Linked DNA regions of Homo sapiens. The protein of the gene in region 5 interacts with the protein of the main gene of each other region in a pairwise test. Each region holds a gene or a part of one and is shown on either strand. Other genes may lie near its edges.

What was found.
Region 1: the proteins of DCX (region 5) and MID2 interact in binary tests that used the Homo sapiens proteins (3 or more experiments, as listed by UniProt).
Region 2: the proteins of DCX (region 5) and SPAG5 interact in binary tests that used the Homo sapiens proteins (3 or more experiments, as listed by UniProt).
Region 3: the proteins of DCX (region 5) and USP9X interact in a two-hybrid assay, tested with the Homo sapiens proteins (one study listed by BioGRID).
Region 4: the proteins of DCX (region 5) and RINT1 interact in binary tests that used the Homo sapiens proteins (3 or more experiments, as listed by UniProt).
Region 6: the proteins of DCX (region 5) and SPP1 interact in a two-hybrid assay, tested with the Homo sapiens proteins (one study listed by BioGRID).

The regions. Positions count from the first base shown.
Region 1 is NC_000023.11:107,919,866-107,923,365, forward strand, and holds part of MID2 (probable E3 ubiquitin-protein ligase MID2), read left to right. Parts: intron 1-3,500. UniProt on the Homo sapiens protein: E3 ubiquitin ligase that plays a role in microtubule stabilization. Mediates the 'Lys-48'-linked polyubiquitination of LRRK2 to drive its localization to microtubules and its proteasomal degradation in neurons.
Region 2 is NC_000017.11:28,579,550-28,582,025, reverse strand, and holds part of SPAG5 (sperm-associated antigen 5), read left to right. Parts: intron 1-1,905; coding exon 1,906-2,017; intron 2,018-2,188; coding exon 2,189-2,275; intron 2,276-2,476. UniProt on the Homo sapiens protein: Essential component of the mitotic spindle required for normal chromosome segregation and progression into anaphase. Required for chromosome alignment, normal timing of sister chromatid segregation, and maintenance of spindle pole architecture.
Region 3 is NC_000023.11:41,228,445-41,231,944, forward strand, and holds part of USP9X (ubiquitin carboxyl-terminal hydrolase 9X), read left to right. Parts: intron 1-808; coding exon 809-965; intron 966-1,122; coding exon 1,123-1,335; coding exon of another isoform or gene 1,336-1,383; intron 1,384-2,056; coding exon 2,057-2,152; intron 2,153-3,500.
Region 4 is NC_000007.14:105,542,201-105,545,700, reverse strand, and holds part of RINT1 (RAD50-interacting protein 1), read right to left. Parts: intron 3,294-3,500; coding exon 3,052-3,293; intron 1-3,051. UniProt on the Homo sapiens protein: Involved in regulation of membrane traffic between the Golgi and the endoplasmic reticulum (ER); the function is proposed to depend on its association in the NRZ complex which is believed to play a role in SNARE assembly at the ER.
Region 5 is NC_000023.11:111,398,693-111,402,192, reverse strand, and holds part of DCX (neuronal migration protein doublecortin), read left to right. Parts: intron 1-862; coding exon 863-1,203; intron 1,204-3,500. UniProt on the Homo sapiens protein: Microtubule-associated protein required for initial steps of neuronal dispersion and cortex lamination during cerebral cortex development. May act by competing with the putative neuronal protein kinase DCLK1 in binding to a target protein.
Region 6 is NC_000004.12:87,978,714-87,981,312, reverse strand, and holds part of SPP1 (osteopontin isoform OPN-a precursor), read right to left. Parts: intron 1,268-2,599; coding exon 1,187-1,267; intron 921-1,186; coding exon 879-920; intron 1-878. UniProt on the Homo sapiens protein: Major non-collagenous bone protein that binds tightly to hydroxyapatite. Appears to form an integral part of the mineralized matrix. Probably important to cell-matrix interaction.

The DNA.
Region 1 (3,500 bases), 3.5 Mb from region 5:
ATGTCTAAAACAAAAATACAAAGCCTTGAATTTATCCCTAGTACATTTTATCTGGTTAGTTCTGCCACTTCATTTCAGCATGCTAAAATCCTTTGGGATACAGATTCTACCTTCAAATATACTTGCTTACCCTCACAGCCTGCCTTCTATTTCTTCCTCTAGTTATTGATAGAAAATTTTGTTAGAACAAGGACAAGGGCAGAGGCCTGAAGCAAAATTTTGGATGGCAATGAGAAACTATTTTACTAGGAATAAGTATTTTTGAAGATTCAGGATCCCAATCCTACCTGCCGGTCTGGCCTGCCACAGTTGACTGAACCTCCGTTCTGAGAGCTACTTTCCTTTGACGTTTTTTCACATTTTCTTTATCCAGAAATTTCATGCTTGTTGGTGAGGATTATTCCCCCTTCACCTTTTCTTTCAACTTTATTTCCTGATTTTTAACTTTCTTCCCACCTCTTCTAAGATTTGAAATGATCACAACCAATGATGTTTCAGATTATGCTGTGAGGTGAATGAGAATTCCAACAGATATTTGAGTGTGTTTGTCTTCTGATTACTTTATTATCTTTCCTCCGTTTGAATTTTGTGTTTTGCATTACAAAAGCATTAGCCGTAAACTCTGCCTAGCCAGGCGGACCATAACATACTACCAGAAAGACATAACTTCTATTTCCCTTCCTTTTCATTCTCATGCAAATACTCTCTACCACACATTTACACTCAGGTTCAGGGATTTCCATATTGTAATTTTTCCCTTTTGAACAAGAGGTATACTTCCACTGACATAATTCAATCATAAGTCCCATCTTACTAAATCTCAGTAATACCTAGAGGATCATATATTTACCTTTTTAAATTTAGAAATGATTTCAAAATCACAGAAAACTTTCCAAGACTAGCACAAAGAACACCCATATATTCTTTACCCAAATTCACCTACTGTTAATATTTGTCCCATTTCCTTTAGCATTTGCTAACATTCCCTGTTCTTTTGGAACCATTTTAGAGCAAATTGCATACATCATGGTCTTTCACCTCTGAATTCTTCAGTGTATATTTCCTAAGAATAAGGAAATTCTCTTACATAACCACAGTATAGTTACCAACTTGAAGAAATTTAACGTTGATGCAATACTTTTATCTAACCACCATTTATATTTCAATTTTTGACATTTGACCAAATAATATTCTTTATGACATATAAAGAACCCAATATTGTCCTTTATAGTTTAGGGTCAGGTATTACATTTAATTGTCGTATCTCTTTTGCCATATCTCTTTTAATCTGGAACATTTCTTCAGCCTTTCTTTGTCTTGAACAACATTGACATTTTTTAAAAAGTGTTCTTTTATGTCTTTATTATACTTCATTATACTGTTCCTTATTTTGATTTTTTCTGAAGTTTTCTCATGATTATATTTAGCAGTACAGTTCTTTCTTAGGGTATAATATCTGGAGACACATGATGTCCACTTGCCCTTCACTGATGATGCTAATTTTGATCACCTAGTCAAGATGTCGTCTGATTTATTCACTGTAGTTGCTACTTTTTCTTTTGCCACTAATAAGGAATCTGTGTGGTATGTTTTAAAACCATAAAAATACCCTGCTGCTTCATCAAACCATCTCATCCCTACCCCCACCCTTGTTTTATTATCAGTTGATGATACTTGCCTGAATCAATCATTAATATGATGATTGCAAAATGATGATTTTTCCAGTTGAGTATTCCCTCCCACATTTTCAAGTTGGCACTTGGCATTCTACTATAAGCAAGAGTTCCACTCCCCATTTCCTCCCATTTGTTTATATATCAGTATGGGCTGATGAATTATCTTTTTTCAATTGTTAATAATTATTTACAGCCCTTACTTGTGTTGGTGTTCAAATTGTCAAGATTTAGCCATTGGGAGCCTTTCAAGGTGATTTCTGGGTCCTTATAATATTCCCCCATCATTTTCTTGAGCACTTCCTTACTTTCTGGCATAACAAAATGTTCTAGGCTCATTTTGACCTTATTCTGTCCCAGCCTTGAAATCAGTCATTATTTTCCAAGAAACCCTGGTTTCTTTTAGTGGGACAATATTAGAGACCAAGACCTGAGTGCTAGATATGCTAGATATAAACACAAATATCCATACATGTAAGCATATGCACACATATATAATAACACATGCATACATACTTTATATATGTGCATATTTATGTGCACATACACAAACATATATATATTTTAGAAATCATGAGTTTACACCAATACCTTAAATTCCAGTCCATCCCCACAGGTTCCTTCCTGCCTTTCTCCATTCTGTATTTGTATGTTCCTTCTTCCACAGTATGAACCCTGGCTCCCAACATCAACACATGTACTCATTTGCTCAATCCCATAATACATCTAAAATAGTTTCTGAATTGCTCTGTCCACGCCACAACAAAAACAAACTGGCTAACAATACTTCAGGATTTGTTTGAGGTTTTCCTCCCACCCCCACTACATTGATGTAATTATGCTGTTCGTCTGAAATGCAGTTGGGTTTGTTTCAGTTTGCCTTCAGCTTTAGTCCCCAATTTTCCCATCTGTATTCATTTAATTTTATTTTTTTGAATTTGTAAAACAATGTGTTTCCCAAAGAGGATGCTATACAAAAAGGTACATTCAGAGAAATGTCATTTCCTCCCACATCCTTTTAATCCTGTTCCTCCACCCCCTACCCCTTGTGGATAACCAACTTCATGAATTTTTTATTTATCTTTCCTGTTTTTATTGTTGTTGCTTTGTAAATCCAAGCAAATATATGGATGTTTTCTTATTTTTCTTTCTCTCAAAAAAGTAGTGTACTGCATATATACTACATATACATATATACTTTTGGAATTTGCTTTTTTCAATTGACAATATTTCCTTGAAATCACTCTATATCAGTTCATAGTGATCTTTTCCTCATTTTTTTCACAGCTGCATAGTACTTCATTGTGAAGTTTGTCTTTGTATTGTTGGGTGTGTATCTGGAGATTATATGTTTTCCTCTTTGTATTAAAATCTTATGTGCAGCTTGTGATTCATACTGTGTATTGGTAACATAGGCAAGGCCTCAAACATTGCTCCTACCCTTTTAATCCATATTGTCTTTTCATTAGAATCACTGGGCACCTCCACCAATTCTTCCTCCTCTTTCTCCTGCATATCTGTTTGCCCTCCATCGTTTCTTTTACTAGTTTTAACTTAGGCTCTTCAACTTCCTCTCAGATTAATTATAAGCCCTTTGATCAGATCTCTTGCAAAACATTCATGACTTATTATTTTCAATTTTCAACCTCACTAAATTTTGTACTAGAGTTGCATAGAAATGACTGAATTCACTGCTTATATTCCTCGCCTTTCCCTTTCTACCCTCTAGTAGAACTGTGGCTAAAAAGTGGTAAACTAACTGAAAAGCAGATAACAGTAGAAAGAAGTCTAAATAATCTGCAGACTAGAATGTTGGTTTTTCTTTTA
Region 2 (2,476 bases), on a different chromosome or scaffold from region 5:
AATTTGATGTAAGAGTGACCAATTTGATGTGAGAGTAAGTTAGAAGAGTGAATGATGATCCTTAGATTGCTAGGAAAGAGGGCCCAGCGGGTCAGCTGTGTTAGTGTGTGGAGACTAGGGCTAGTGACACCTCCGGGTCAGCTCTGTGCCCAGGAAGCACTTCAACCTGTGTGGCAGGAGGGATAGCAATAGGAAGCACTTCAATTCCCCACAACTCAGACACCCAGACGGGAGGGCAGAGGACCAAGGCTGAAAGGAGTAGAGAGCCTGAGAGAGAGATGAGACTGAGGGGAGCTAGTGGTGACTCAGGCTAACCAGTCAGCGGGAGAGACCTAGACCGGGGGGCAGAGAAGGCGGGAGAACTGGAGAGAGGACCTAGCCTAGGAGGAGAGGGAGCAGGCTGAGAAGGAAATGCTCTGGGTAGGAGAGACAGACTCCAAGGAAAAATCCAACAAGTAGAGGAGGATTTGGGATTGGAAAAGCTGAGGTCCAGCTGGGAGAGCTGAAGAGGGATAGAACAGAAGAGGTTGAGCCATGGGGTTTCAAGTACGCGGAAAGGAGCAAAGATGTTAGGAAAGGGTCGAAAGGGCACATCCCGGAGTCCCAGGTAGCAGGACGAGGATGGCAGGGGAAGAGCCAAGGAAATGAAGCGGAGATGTTGAGTGGCTCCCGCCTTGCCTGGCCTTACCTGTGCGCAGCCAGTTAGCAGCCGCAGCCACAAGCACAGCTACTTCAGGACTGAGGCCAGCAAGCTTTTCCTATAAATGGCCATATAATAAGTATTTTTGGCTTTTTGGGCCATATGGTCTCTGTCTCAACTACTCAATTCTGCCTTTGTAGTTCAAGAGCAGCCATAGATGATACAGCCATTAATGGGTCTGGCTGTGTTCCAATAAAACTTTATTTACAAAAATAGTTGGCAGGCTAGATTTGACCTGTAGGCCACAATTTGCTAGCCTTCCCTCTCCCTGCTCTAGAATAGTAAATACAGGAGTAGGAACAGACTTTTGATAGGGTGTTCCCTATCAGGGCACAGGGAAAATGGTGAACTCAGCTTCATACATACTAAGTTGACAGATTGACTGTGGAACCTTCTGGTAGATTCTTCACAGGCAGTTAGCCTTTGAGTCTGCAGACTGGGAAAAAGACTGGGAAAAAGTTGAGAGAGGGATGGAAGAGTCATTCATGTGGAAGGGAAGTTTGAAGTAGATGTTTTTGTGATGCTCCCAAGGCAAGGCCACCCTGGGAATGAATTAGAGTAAATTTAGGGCCAAGGACTTAACCCAGAGGATCCAGCAGTTAAGGAAGGACCTGTGAATAGAGAAGAAATAACCAGAAAGGTGTGGGGCCTGCCTTTAAAGGAGAGAGACTCATGTCCTGGAAGCTAAGAAAAGGAAGTTTCTAAAAGAACAATGTGGTCATCAATATCAAATAGGTCAGGTAAAACAAGAGCTGAAATATATGCATTGCATTTGAAAGTAAGGCTGCCATTGGTGAACCAAATGACAAGAATTTAGGTGGAATGACAGGGGAGAAGCCTGAGTGTAGTGGGCTGGGGAGTCAATAGATGGTGAGAGTTATAAACAAGAAGTATAGGCTCTTTTTTTCTTTCTTTTTTCTTTCTTTCCTTTCTTTCTAGAAAAGGCAGTAGCTAAAAGGGGATTTAAGGTAAGAAGAAGGGTTTTGTTTTGTTTTGTTTAGGTTTGTTTTTAAAATACTGCTGTTTTTGTTGGAGAGGCTTAAGAATATAAACATGTTCAGAGAAAGGCACTAATGGAGAAGTTGAAGATAGAGAATTGAGATAATAGGTGGAACAGCATTTTGGAGGAGATGGCTGGGAGTTACCTGGAAGCCCAGGAGTTCACTAGACCTGAACAGCAGCTATTTTTTCTTCTTTGCCCTTAGACTGAACAAGAGACCCTTCTGCTGAGTACAGCCTGTCCTCCCACCCAGGAACACCCTCTGCCTAATGACAGGACCTTCCTGGGAAGCATCTTGACAGCAGTGGCAGATGAAGGTTAAAGGCCCTGGGATTTGGGGGTGGGAAAGTTGTGACGCTGCTCCTGATATCTTCTGCTGTTGAAGATGTCCACCAGCGGGCTTGTCTATCTTACCCTGGCTTCCATTATGGTAGACCCCTGCCTGGATCATCAGAGGGGCCCTCTCCCATTATTGGTTTTTCTCTTAGAGCCAGAATCAACTCCTGTGCCCTTGCTTGGAAGTGACAAGAGTGCTTTCACCCGAGTAGCATCAATGGTTTCCCTTCAGCCCGCAGGTTAGGAGGGGCTCCAGGGATCCTGCCTCATTTCTAGAAAATCTGGTGGTGATGAGTAAAGACGAAAGCAGTGAGAAGTGCTTTGCTCTAAAAACCTCAATTCTACTTGGGCTCATTTTATTTCTGCCTTCTGGGATCTGTAATGTTCCAGACATTCAAATCCTGTGGGTGGGGAACACGGATAAGAGTTGTGGAAATGAT
Region 3 (3,500 bases), about 70 Mb from region 5:
CCAAATTGTACTATTGCCTGTCAAAATGCTTTGCCTGCCATGTATTCTCATTATTAGAATTCAAATACTGTACCTCCAAATTATGTCACTGAATCCTAACTTGCCTTCAGAGATGCAGTTTTATAAAAGGTATTGATGTGTAGCAAATTACCCTCAACTACAGCAGTCATAAACTTAGTTATAACTTTTTTAAAGTTTGCATTACTCTCGAGTGTCCTGAATTCACTTCAGGTAATGTGTTTAAATTACATATATGGCAGAATTATTTTGGACTGGTAATAAGTTAGTAAGAGCACAGACTCTGGAGTCACACTGCTCCGCAGCTATATGACCTCGGCAAGCTGTGTAACTCTGTGCCAATTTTCTCACCTGTTAAAAGTTTTAATAATAAGGCCAGGCGCAGTGGCTCATGCCTGTAATCCCAGCACTTTGGGAGGCCGAGGCAGGCGGATCACGAGGTCAGGAGATTGAGACCATCCTGGCTAACACGGTGAAACCCCGTCTCTACTAAAAATACAAAAAATTAGCTGGGCGTGGTGGCACGTGCCTGTAGTTGGGCTGAGGCAGGAGAGAGGCGTGAACCTGGGAGGCAGGACTTGAAGTAAGCCGAGATGGCGCCACTGCACTCCAGCCCAGGCCGTCTCAAAAAAAATAAATAAATAAAAAATAAAGGTTTAATAATAGTACCTATTGTCTAATGTTAGATTAAATGACTAAAAGACATTATTGAGTGGCACATAGTAGGCACTCAGTATATATTAGCTATTAGATTTTAGATGTTTTTATTTTATATCTGGTTCTCTTTCAGAATTCATAATGCACTGAAAGGAATTCCAGATGACCGAGATGGGCTGTTTGACACAATCCAGCGCTCTAAGAATCACTATCAAAAAAGAGCATACCAGTGTATAAAATGTATGGTAGCTCTATTTAGTAACTGTCCTGTTGCTTACCAAATCCTGCAGGTGAGGATTTTTTTCTTATAATTTTGTAGAAATCTTAATCAGAATTAAGGATTCTGTTTTAAAAGAAGAGAATCATGAGAACTTGGGGTTGTCATTTTAAGTTAACTTTGAAGTATTCCAAATCCTCTTATCTATATGGTTTTATTTTCTTTTGCAGGGCAATGGAGATCTTAAAAGAAAGTGGACCTGGGCAGTGGAATGGCTTGGAGATGAACTTGAAAGAAGACCATATACTGGCAATCCTCAGTACACTTACAACAATTGGTCTCCCCCAGTGCAAAGCAATGAAACGTCCAATGGTTATTTCTTGGAGAGATCACATAGTGCTAGGATGACACTTGCAAAAGCTTGTGAACTCTGTCCAGAGGAGGTAAAAAAAGCCACCAGTGTGCAGCAGATAGAAATGGAAGAGAGCAAAGTAATTCTTTATTTTATAGGCCAGTGTTTATGTATTAATGATATTATTAAAAGATTATGTTGAAGTTTTGGGTTTTGAAAAATGTTTATTCGGCTGGGCATGGTGGCTCACGCCTGTAATCCCAACACTTTGGGAGGCCGAGGCAGGCGGATCACCTGAGGTCAGGAGTTCAAGACCAGCCTGGCCAACAAGGTGAAATCCCATCTCCACTAAAAATAGAAAAATTAGTCGGGCGTGGTGGCAGGCGCCTGTAATCTCAGCTACTTGGGAGGCTGAGGCTGGAGAATGACTTGAACCCAGGAGGCACAGATTGCAGTGAGCGGAGATCGTGCCAGTGGGCTCCAGCTTGGGTGACAAGAGTGAAACTCCATCTCAAAAAAAGAAAAGAAAAGAATGTTTATTCTATGTCATTTTAAGCTAATGAAGGGAGCTTTCTTTTGGAGAAATTTCTGTGAAATTGCCTGAAATGTAGTAGTTCTGAGAGAATGCAAATCAGGTTTTTTGTTTTGTTTTTTTTTTTTTTGTTTTTTCCCCAAGTTCTTTATCTGCAGTAAAAGAAAAGTTGCTAATGGGTCAGTTTTGTAGATTTTTAAAATTTATTTCAAATAGAAAAAGTTAAAAGTAAACTTGAGTTTGCCTACGTAATTTTTTATCTTGAAATATTCAAAATTAGGAGCCAGATGACCAAGATGCTCCAGATGAACATGAGTCGCCTCCACCTGAAGATGCCCCATTGTACCCCCATTCACCTGGATCTCAGTATCAACAGGTAAACAGGAGTCAGTTTATGCTTTTATCCCCTAGAACTGGGTTTTATGCTTAATTTTAGAGGATGGCTCAATTGTTTGTTGTGACTACAAAGTAAGAAGTAGGATTATCTAGACTAGCTTTGGGAGCATGATCCAGAAGAGGGATGGTTTGGAGTGGGGGTCATGGTGTAACATGTTTGAACTTAACCACTGTAGGGTTTTCCTTGTCAAGAAGGTGTCCTTCTTGTGCTAGTAGTTAATAAAACTGTATGAGAATTTATATCAACATAAAATGATCATTGTTTAGTGCAAAGGATTGTGGTGACATTTCCGGTGAGGTAAAATCTTCACCTGGATTCCAAAAACATTATTAAGATATGGCAATGAAGTAAGAAGTCCTTGGTTACTTAGCCACAGGTTTCAGTGATGGTAAAAATCACTGGAAAAAAAAGGATTTGGGTAGATTTCCATAGGTGATTAAAGTAAATAAACTAGTAAATAGCAAAAGAAATGAGATGAAGAAACATTCTAAATGATAACTTTTTCTTTCTGAAACCAAAATGTGACTAAATCAGCTCTTGTGAGGCAGTGGTACTCAAACTTGCACAGGCGTGAGTCTCCCTGGAAGGGTTGCTCCAGCAGAGAGCTAGATGCTACCCTAAAGTGTCTTATTTCATAGGTCTTCAAGGGGCTGGAAAATGTACATTTCTAGCAAGTTCCCAAGTGATGCTGCTGGTGGTCCAGGAACCATACTTGGAGAAACATTTCAGGCATTCTTTCTTACATTTCACTGTGTACATAGAAGCAAACTGAATAGTTAGGAAGTACACATTCAGCGTACTTATTTTCATCTATAGAAAGTAAAGCCTGGCCAGGCGCGGTAGCTCATGCCTGTAATCCCAACACTTTGGAAGGCTGAGGCAGGTGGATCACCTGAGGTCAGGAGTTTGAGACCAGCCTGACCAACATGGAGAAGCCCTGTCTCTACTAAAAATACAAAATTAGCCGGGTATGGTGGTGGCGCATGCCTGTAATCCCAGCTACTCAGGAGGCTGAGGCAAGAGAATCTCTTGAACCCAGGAGGCAGAGGTGGTGGTGAGTCGAGATAGCACCATTGCACTCCAGCCTGGGCAACAAGAGCGAAACTCCCATCTCAAAAAAAAAAAAAAAAAAGTTAAGCCTAAAATCTTGGCTTGGCTGATGGAGCATGTACAGAAAAATGAGAGCACTGTAGGGTTCAGACATTTTAAAAGGTTAAGGAACCAAATCCACAAGGAAGGTTAACTTCCTTTGACCCTGAGAAAGCTCTTATGTTAATCATGCCTGGTTACTTTATCATCTTGAACATTGTTCTGTTTTTAATCAGCA
Region 4 (3,500 bases), on a different chromosome or scaffold from region 5:
TATAAAAACTAGCCAGGCGTGGTCATGGGCACCTGTAATCCCAGCTACTCAGGAGGCTGAGGCAGGAGAATTGCTTGAACCCAGAAGACAGAGGTTGCAGTGAGCTGACAGGGTGCCGCTGCACTCCAGCCTCAGCAACAGAGTAAGACTCCATCTCAAAAAAAAAAAAATATATATATATATATACAAATATTACAGAAGAATTTCAAATGTACAAACAGAATATGAGTACTGCCTTTTTTTTTTTTTTAAAAGAGTCTCACTCTGTCACCTAGGCTGCAGTGCAGTGGTACAATCACGGCTCATTGCAATCTTAACCTCTCGGGGCTCAAGCGATCCTCCTACCTCAGCCTCCCGAGTAGCTGGGACTATGGGTGCTCACCACCAAGCCTGGCTGATTTTTTTTTTTTTAAACAGAGATGGGGTTTTGCCATGTTGCCCAGACTGGTCACAGAATTCAGAGCTCAAGCGATCTGCCCACCTCAGCCTCTCAAAGTGCTAGGACTACGGCATGAGCCACCATGCCCGGCAGGAGTACTGCTTTTAAGGAAGGAATGAAATAGATTTCCTCACAACACTAAAGTATGAATGACATTTACAACATAGGAAAAGCTAGAGAAACAAGGTTCACTCAGAGTGATAGTGCTATACTATAGTATCCAAGAAACAGAGCTAATGTAAGGATGCTAATTCTAGCAAGAAGAAACTACTTGAAAAAAAGACAATGTACATCAGAATAAAAATAGGCCATTATAAAAAAATTTAGAGATGAAGAAAATCCCAGAAGCTCTAAAGGAAAGCTGGAAATGGAGAGATTATCATAAAAGACCTCAGGGAAATAACACATTATTAAAGACAGAAAAATAACTGTGCTCTACCTGCTTATGAATTTGATCCCTATTTCTAATATAAATCCCTCGGCATATTTCCCTTATAAACAATTCAGATATCTGAAGAGTTTATCAAGGCCAGGTGCAGTGGCTCACACCTGTAATCCCAGCACTTTGGGAGGCCAAGGCAGGCAGATGACTTGAGGTCAGGAGTTCAAGACCAGCCTAGCCAACATAGTGAAACCCTATCTCTACTAAAAATACAAAAATTAGCTGGGCGTGGTGGCATACACCTGTAGTCCTAGCTACTCGGGAGGCCAAGGCAGGAGAATCGCTTGAACCCGGGAGGTGGAGGTTGCAGTGAGCTGAGATTGTGCCACTGCACTCCAGCCTGGGCAACAGAGGAAGATTCCAACTCAAAAAAAAATAAAAAGAAAATTAAAATAAATAAAATAAATGTTAAAAAAAAGAAGAAAAAAGAAAAGTTTATCAATAACCATGGACCTAATTTAGTTAATCTATTACTTTGGCTACTACAAGAGTGAGGTTTTCAAATAACGTATTTTACTTAATAAAGTTATTAACATTGCCCCTTACTGATATTTCCTTTCTGAGGGACAAGGAGAAATGCAGTAAAATAAAGCAAGGTTTAAAATTCCTTCACTGCAAATAATTTATCTAAACAAGAATGAGATGTTCTAAACCACTTTATATGTAAAACTCCTCATACATGCAAAACAAAGTTTTTTTGTTTTTTTTGTTTTTTTTTTGAGACGGAGTTTCGCTCTTGCTGCCTAGGCTGCAGTGCAATGGCACAACCTCAGCTCACTGCAACCTCTGCCTCCCGAGTCCAAGCAATTCCCCTGCCTCAGCCTCCCAAGTAGCTGGGATTACAGGCACGCGCCACCATGCCTGGCTAATTTCTTTTTTTTTTTTGTATTTTTAGTAGAGACGGGGTTTCACCATGTTGGTCAGGCTGGTCTCAAACTCCTGACCTCGTGATCTGCCCGCCTCGGCCTCCCAAAGTGCTGGGATTACAGGTGTGAGCCACTGCACCTGGCCTAAAAACAAAGATTTCTATATTATATTGATATGTAAAATTCTTTAAAATTTTGGGAAATATATGCAAGAAAAAGAAATACATAAAACATATCCATAACAAAAGTAATATCAGGTTTATTAACTATGATACATTTGAAACAGGACATTAAGACTCCCAGAAGACTTTTCTCCCTCAGGTTTTCCAGGCAAAATTAATGGTTGCTGACAGCTCTGCAGCAAGTACTAGTTAAAACAATGCAAGGATAGTGGGGACCTTATCATCTACTAATCTAGGTGGAAATGTTACTTTGGGTTGTCTGAAAGGCAAAGCTAGATACAATTAACTACCAGTGATAGGTATTCAACTCAAAAAGAACTAAGGTCAAGCCTTACTTCCTTTTTTGTTTTTCCTACCCAGAGGTAGCAGAACTCTTGTTATTCATCCAAGAATACTGTGTAGCTCTTATGATTCCCACTGAAAAATATTCAAATTATACAAAAGCAATCCATTTCATTAACTGACCAGTTCTAAAAATTAAATAAGAATAACTATTACCAAACTTTGTGTTTTATTAATTTGGCATTACAAAGAATAGTTTTTATCATGTGTTCATAATCCAACTGTAAGACTTAAAAGTTTGGCCGGACGCGGTAGCTCATGCCTGTAATCCCAGCACTTCCAGCGGCCGAGGCTGGCGGACAGTGAGGTCAAGAGATCGAGACCATCCTGGCTAACATGGTGAAACCCCGTCTCTACTAAAAATACCAAAAAAAAAAATTAGCCAGGCATGGTGGCGGGCGCCTGTAGTCCCAGCTACTCGGGAGGCTGAGGCAGGAGAATGGCATGAACCCGGGAGGTGTAGCTTGCAGTGAGCCGAGATGGCACCACTGCACTCCAGCTGGGCGACAGAGCGAGACTCCATCTCAAAAAAAAAAAACTTAAAAGTTTAACGTACTTACATTACCTTCTTTCAAATGCTAATTAAGCTCCCTGAAAAGCTTATGTTCACTCACAATAAAGGAAAAGAATCATTATCATAATGCTATTTTCACAACAACTGGTAAAATTATATTATTATAATCTTTAATTAACTCAATTATTTAATGGCACACATGTACTCTCTAAGACAGAAGCCTCAAAGGAAAATAGTAATTGTGAGAACAAAGAGGCCCATTTTACCTTAGTTCTTCAATTTGTGAAATCCATTTAAGGTAAGCAAGATGACGTTCGATCTCTTCAATCTGGCTAATCATGGTTCCAAGATCGTCCATCCAAGGTTGCGCAGTCAGCAAATGGCTGTTAATGGCGCTGAAGAGATGAGTTTCCTGCTCCAGAAACTGATTAAGAAATTGCTTTGATTCTTCTGCATTTTTTAAGGCACTTCGAATTCTTTTAGGAATTTCTGATGAAATTGTAAGTACCTGACCATAATTTTAAAAAAGAAAGAAAGAAAGAACAGCAGCAATCAGATAAAATTTTCATAATTTTTTTTTTGAGAGGGGATCTCACGCTGTTGCCCAGGCTGGAGTGCAGTGGTACCATCATAGCTCACTGCAGCCTGGACTTCCTGGGCTCAACCAATCCTCCCACCTCAACCTCCCCAGTAGTTGGGACTACACATATGCACC
Region 5 (3,500 bases):
TTCTCACTTCTTTACCTCATTACTTGTGGCAGCCAAGGGTGAGCACTGGTGAAGATGACCCTGAATACACAGATCTTATGTGCATCCTTTGAGAGGATGGAAAGATGAAGGGTGAGTGGTAGAAACATGAGAGTATTTTTCAAGCAAAAGCTAAGGTGTTTATATGTACTGGTTGTTATTTAGACAGTTTCTCTACCTAGTGTAGCATAAGGAGTAGAGGACACACTTATACACACATATAAACATTCAACATATGCACACACATTTCACATTTCAATATTCCATACTTGGCCATATACTCTGTGCAAAGGATGACCTGGTTTCTTATCAAGTATGTATGTATGCCTGATATACAAGGTTACTTGGTTCATTTTAACTTGGCATAAAAATGTTTTAACTTTGAAAGTTTTCCTTGGTTCATAATATCACAAAGGGATGGGACTTTGAGTCCAAAAATAGGACAGGGATTTTAAGAAATAGAAATGTTAAAAATTCTCCAGTAATGCCCCTGAAAGCTAAACATCCTAGAAACTAACATAAATGTTTAAATTCCAGAAAAAACCATATCAAGCTTGGAACTCCACTTGTTATATTAAATTTAGATATGCTCTTTGTCCTTAGAACCCTTAGCTTTACAGAGTTCTTCAACTAGGTGTGTCATTATATTGAAGGATGTTTTGAGAATTACTCTTGAATTTGGATGAGCCAAGTTTTTAGCCCAATTAGGAATTGCACCTAAGGTTGGTTAGTATCACCATTTATTGAAAAGTTCTACTCCAGTGTCAGTGTGTATTAGTTTGGTTAGAATAATCCATATATCTGCTATTAAACTAATCACCTAATCACTTATTTCTTGCCTTAGGGGAAAGCTATGTCTGTTCCTCAGACAACTTCTTTAAAAAGGTGGAGTACACCAAGAATGTCAATCCCAACTGGTCTGTCAACGTAAAAACATCTGCCAATATGAAAGCCCCCCAGTCCTTGGCTAGCAGCAACAGTGCACAGGCCAGGGAGAACAAGGACTTTGTGCGCCCCAAGCTGGTTACCATCATCCGCAGTGGGGTGAAGCCTCGGAAGGCTGTGCGTGTGCTTCTGAACAAGAAGACAGCCCACTCTTTTGAGCAAGTCCTCACTGATATCACAGAAGCCATCAAACTGGAGACCGGGGTTGTCAAAAAACTCTACACTCTGGATGGAAAACAGGTAGGTACTTTTTCAAAGTACTTTTCCCGTTTTTTCTAAATTCTTAGATGATCATGTTATACCTAAAATATCATTTCTTGTTGACGGACTCTTCCTCCACATCTCATCATCACAACCTGATATTATAGGTTTCATTTGGAGAAAAGGTATTTTTAGCAGGCAAAGCAATGAATCAGGAATCTGAGGCTTTGAAATTCAATCTGCTTCTGATTTACCATGCAGAAAGGTCACTTAGCCTCAGCTTCCTTATCTGCTATGAAAGATGTGTTAGAACCTAGGTTCTATGAATTCTTATGAATATGAATTTAGCTATTATATGATGCAACCTTCATTGTTCAATACATGTGACTGAAAATGATATTTGCCCATTCATTACTTTTTAGATACCCTCACATTGATGCTCAGCATCTATTTTGATAAAAGGAAGTTGAAGTGACCTTCATATGCTCTGAAAGAAGTCAGATACGGGGAAAGCACTGAAGCCTCTGGCTCGTTGTCTTTGCCTCACACTAAACCATATTTATTCTCTTTCTCTTTTCCATATGACATAGCTGTCTTAATTTGGTTCCACTGATGGTTTGTGTGAGAAAGGGACTATTTCAGGATCCTAAAATTAGCCCAAGAAAGATGCTGCCATCTGTTCCCCCTCCAAATCAGGTTCTTCATGTCATTGGTTATACTACTAAAGTGCCACCTATATTAATATCTGGGAAAGAATGCAGCCAGGCGTCTCCATCAGACAGATGCACCATTCTCTTAAGCATAGGGAGCTGTAAATATACAACAAAAATGTTCCAAGGGAATTGGAACAGTGGCTGGTTCTGTTGGCTCTAAAGAGAATTCTGGTCTCCCATCAGAAAAGACAAGTGTGGATTAGTATCAGTCCATATATTCTACCTCTTAAAATGCCTTTGGTGTTTAAACAACTATATAGAAAAGGTATTCCTAAAAGGCGGATTCACTATATATCAAAGTTACTGATGAGTGTTCAAATGCAGACCTGTGCCTCCTCCTATAATTTCTGATAGTAATGTGTGCTCCAAGATTTTAAGTTTCAGGGAAAACTCACCCAGGTACTGTGTACTTTGCAATTTTGAGAAATATTTGGCTTTGTTTCCCATCATTTTGCGATCTGAGAGCTACCTGGACACATTGGTTATACCTGACTTCTGTTTGTTGTACTGAAGCAATGGGTTTGTCTGTGATGTTGGGAAAATCTCCAATTCCCAAGCATTTCTCTAAGAGTGTCTATCTTCTAAGCACCATGTATGTAATAAACAGGAGCTGTCTAAGTATAGGCCTGATTGCCAAAGCCTCATCTCAGAGAAATAGGACATAGAAAGTTTAGAATCATTGGATCACAGAGTTGAGAATGACTTTAGAAGCCATGACATTTAATCTTCCACCTAAGGCATGGATATCCTCTACAATCACTCTATAAGACTATAAGACAGCCTATTTCACTGTTCAACAGCTGTGATTTTTAGAGTTTCTTTATATTAGGCATAAATCTGATTCCCTGTGCCTTCAGCCTTCTGAAGTAATATAGGAATATGCAAATCAAAAACATAAGACTGGGATTAAGAAGATTTGGACTTTAGTCTTGATATTGTCACTTAACCACTTAACTGTCCTGAACCTCACACTCCTTCTCTGTACAAAAGGACTGATCACACCTGCCCTGAGCATGCTCACAGGACTCTTATGAGGATTAAATCAAATAATGGATATGAAAGCACTCTGTAAATTGACACATGGATGTATATATATATATATGCATATAATTCATCATTAAATGAGATTTATGGCAATTTTCATATATTAATAAATGTTAGCTCTCTTTCTCCTACTTTATTTATTTATTTATTTACTTTTGGAGTCAGAGTCTCACTCTGTCACCCAGGCTGGAGTGCAGTGGTGTGAATTTGGCTCACTGCAACCTCTGCCTCCTGAGTTCAAGCAATTCTCCTGCCTCAGCCTCCCAAGTAGCTGGGACTACAGACGCACGCTGCAATACCCGGCTAATTTTTTTGTATTTTAGTAGAAACGGGTTTTCACTGTGTTGCCCGGGATGGTCTTGAACTCCTGAGCTAGGGCAATCCGCCCACCTTGGCCTTCCAAAGTGCTAGGATTATAGGCATGAGCCACCATGCCTAGCCTCTTCCCCCTACTTTATCTCTATCATTCTTATTATAAATTTCCAACATTTGTGAATATATACCATGCCTTGGCATTCTGCTTTTGTTCCAAATAATATATAAAGGGACACCTCCATCTCCTAGGGAAGCAAGCTCCAG
Region 6 (2,599 bases), on a different chromosome or scaffold from region 5:
ATTTCTCTTTTAACACAGGGATTAATAACATTCTGAAGAACATTTCTTACTTTGCAACAGAAATTATTTTTATAGATATTTTCAAGCCAAATATGTGAGTATAATCTTCATGTCAATAACATTGTTTTTCCTTATACATATTAAACATTATTTACTAAATTCAATGATGTAATAGATACAGATACATAATTATGAGACTGGTTTTTTTATTTGAAATGAGATTTATCAAAAGAGAAGAGTATCCATATTTTAATGTGTGTACTAAAATCTATAACCACTTTCCTATTAACATGGATAATTGAAAGGTGACTCTGTTATGCATGTGTGTATAAACTGCAGCTCAAAACTGCCCATTGAATTAAACAACTAATGTCTATCAAATTTCAAATTGACAAATATATTGGGTAATTTATCTAACTTGCTTTAATATTCTTAGTATATTCAAATTGAATCTTAAGGAAAATAAATTTACTCTTTGCTTAGCAAATATATGAATGATCCTAATAAAAAGAATAGTTGTCAAATAAACTATTTTATTAGGAAAGAAAACTTTCCTAAAGGCAAAATCTTAGCTTTGATATGCATTAATTAGATGCTTATTAGATATTAGATATCTACAAAATACCTTAAATAAATTGCAAGCAGATTAATGTTTCAAATAACAGGCATTAATAAACATCTTCTGTAATGCTAAACTTATCCGAGGAAACCTAGTATTTCTGATATTTAGTAAATACATGTTTTATTTATGAGCAAGTTTTAGACTGCCAATTAGCTGGAAAACTTGCTAATGAAATTTCATCAGAAGAGAATCCAGGCAATGCCTTCTTTCATCTCTTCAAGGCATGATGGGCCTCTGATTGAAAATGAGAACTTACCTCTTGTTTAAAGTCATTGGTTTCTTCAGAGGACACAGCATTCTGAAGAAGGAATGGCACGTGTTAGTGCGCATCACACATGCCTAGCTTTTTTATTCAAAAGTTAACCTTTTTAATCCAAAGCAGTTTTTATTTTTCAGCCTCATCTGTGGATGGCTTAACACAGAGAGAAGCCAACATGGCAGATCAGTCAATGTCCTAAGCACATGTTTGCCAGCAGGCAGGCAGGATTCATCTGAGCAGCCCAAATGGCCTGAGTGTGGCTATCTTTCATCACTGTAGTTTAATTATGAGAAGTTTAAAAATACCTGTGGGGCTAGGAGATTCTGCTTCTGAGATGGGTCAGGGTTTAGCCATGTGGCCACAGCATCTGGGTATTTGTTGTAAAGCTACAAAAAAGTTGCATGTTTATCATTATTAAAAAAAGAAATGTAGGGATGAATGGAAAAAACAACCATTCTTCACTAGTCTTGATGGAAGCATATAGTCACCCGGACCCTTAGGTACCTTTTTGTAATTTTTTTTTTTTTGCAGATTCATTTAACAAACTCTTATGTAGCACTTACTGTGGGCTAGGCACTCTTTCAAATTGCTTTACAAATATGAACTCATTTGATCCTTTCATTCCCCTATGAGATAGGTATCATTATTATTCCCACCTTACAGATCAGAAAACTCAGCCACAGTGCAGTTAAGTGGTAGGAAATGGCAGAGCCAGGCAGGGTTCAAACGCAGGCAAACTAGCTCTTAACACCGAACTTCACACTGTGCTTTCTTTTTGTATGTTTGCTGGCTGAATTTTCCTCTCAGATAAAGCACATCTAAACCAGAAGTGACCTTAATTACTGTTAATCTTCATTGTGTCCAGTCCATGGAACAAGAAGGAACTCTCTAAGACTGTGCTAATTCAGTATCCTCTAACCACATGGAGCTATTTAAATTTAAGTTAATTAAAATGAAATGGCTAGGCACGGTGGCTCACCCCTGTAATCCCAGCACTTTGGGAGGCCGAGGCAGGCGGATCACGAGGTCAGGAGATCGAGAACATCCTGGCTAACACAGTGAAACCCCGTTTCTACTAAAAAAAATAAAAATAAAAAAAAATAGCCGGGCGTGGTGGCAGGCACCTGTACCCCCAGCTACTGGGGAGGCTGAGGCAAGAGAATGGCGTGAACCCAGGAGGCAGAGCTTGCAGTGAGCCAAGATTGCGCCACTGCACTCCAGCCTGGGTGACAGAGCAAGACTCCATCTCAAAAAAAAAAAAAAAAAAAAAGAAGATAAAAATTCAGTTCCTCAGTTGCACTAGCCCACATTTTGAGTGCTCAATAGCCATATGTATCTTATCAGCCAATGTAGAAATATAATATTAAAATCATTGCACAAAAGTTCTATTGCTGTAAGGTGCCAAAGATGTAAATGAAATGGATTTTTCTTTAGCCAAGTTATTTATCTGGAAAATACTGATAATATGCTACTGCAAAGGAGTGGAAATTGCTCTGAGTAAGTATCATCTGATCTGCTGAATCATCCAGGGCCAATCATTACATTTCCCTGTCACTGAGAATGAGAACTCTGGGGGTTGCACAGAGTTCCTTCTGCAGCCACCTAAGGGGTGGATGAGTAGAGAGAGAACCAGTCAGAAGTACTTGGAGTTTCTCTCATGGCTGGCTCTAACCAGAGGAGCTTAGTATTGGGCTTCTCCGAAAGGTTTTGCTGAAAGA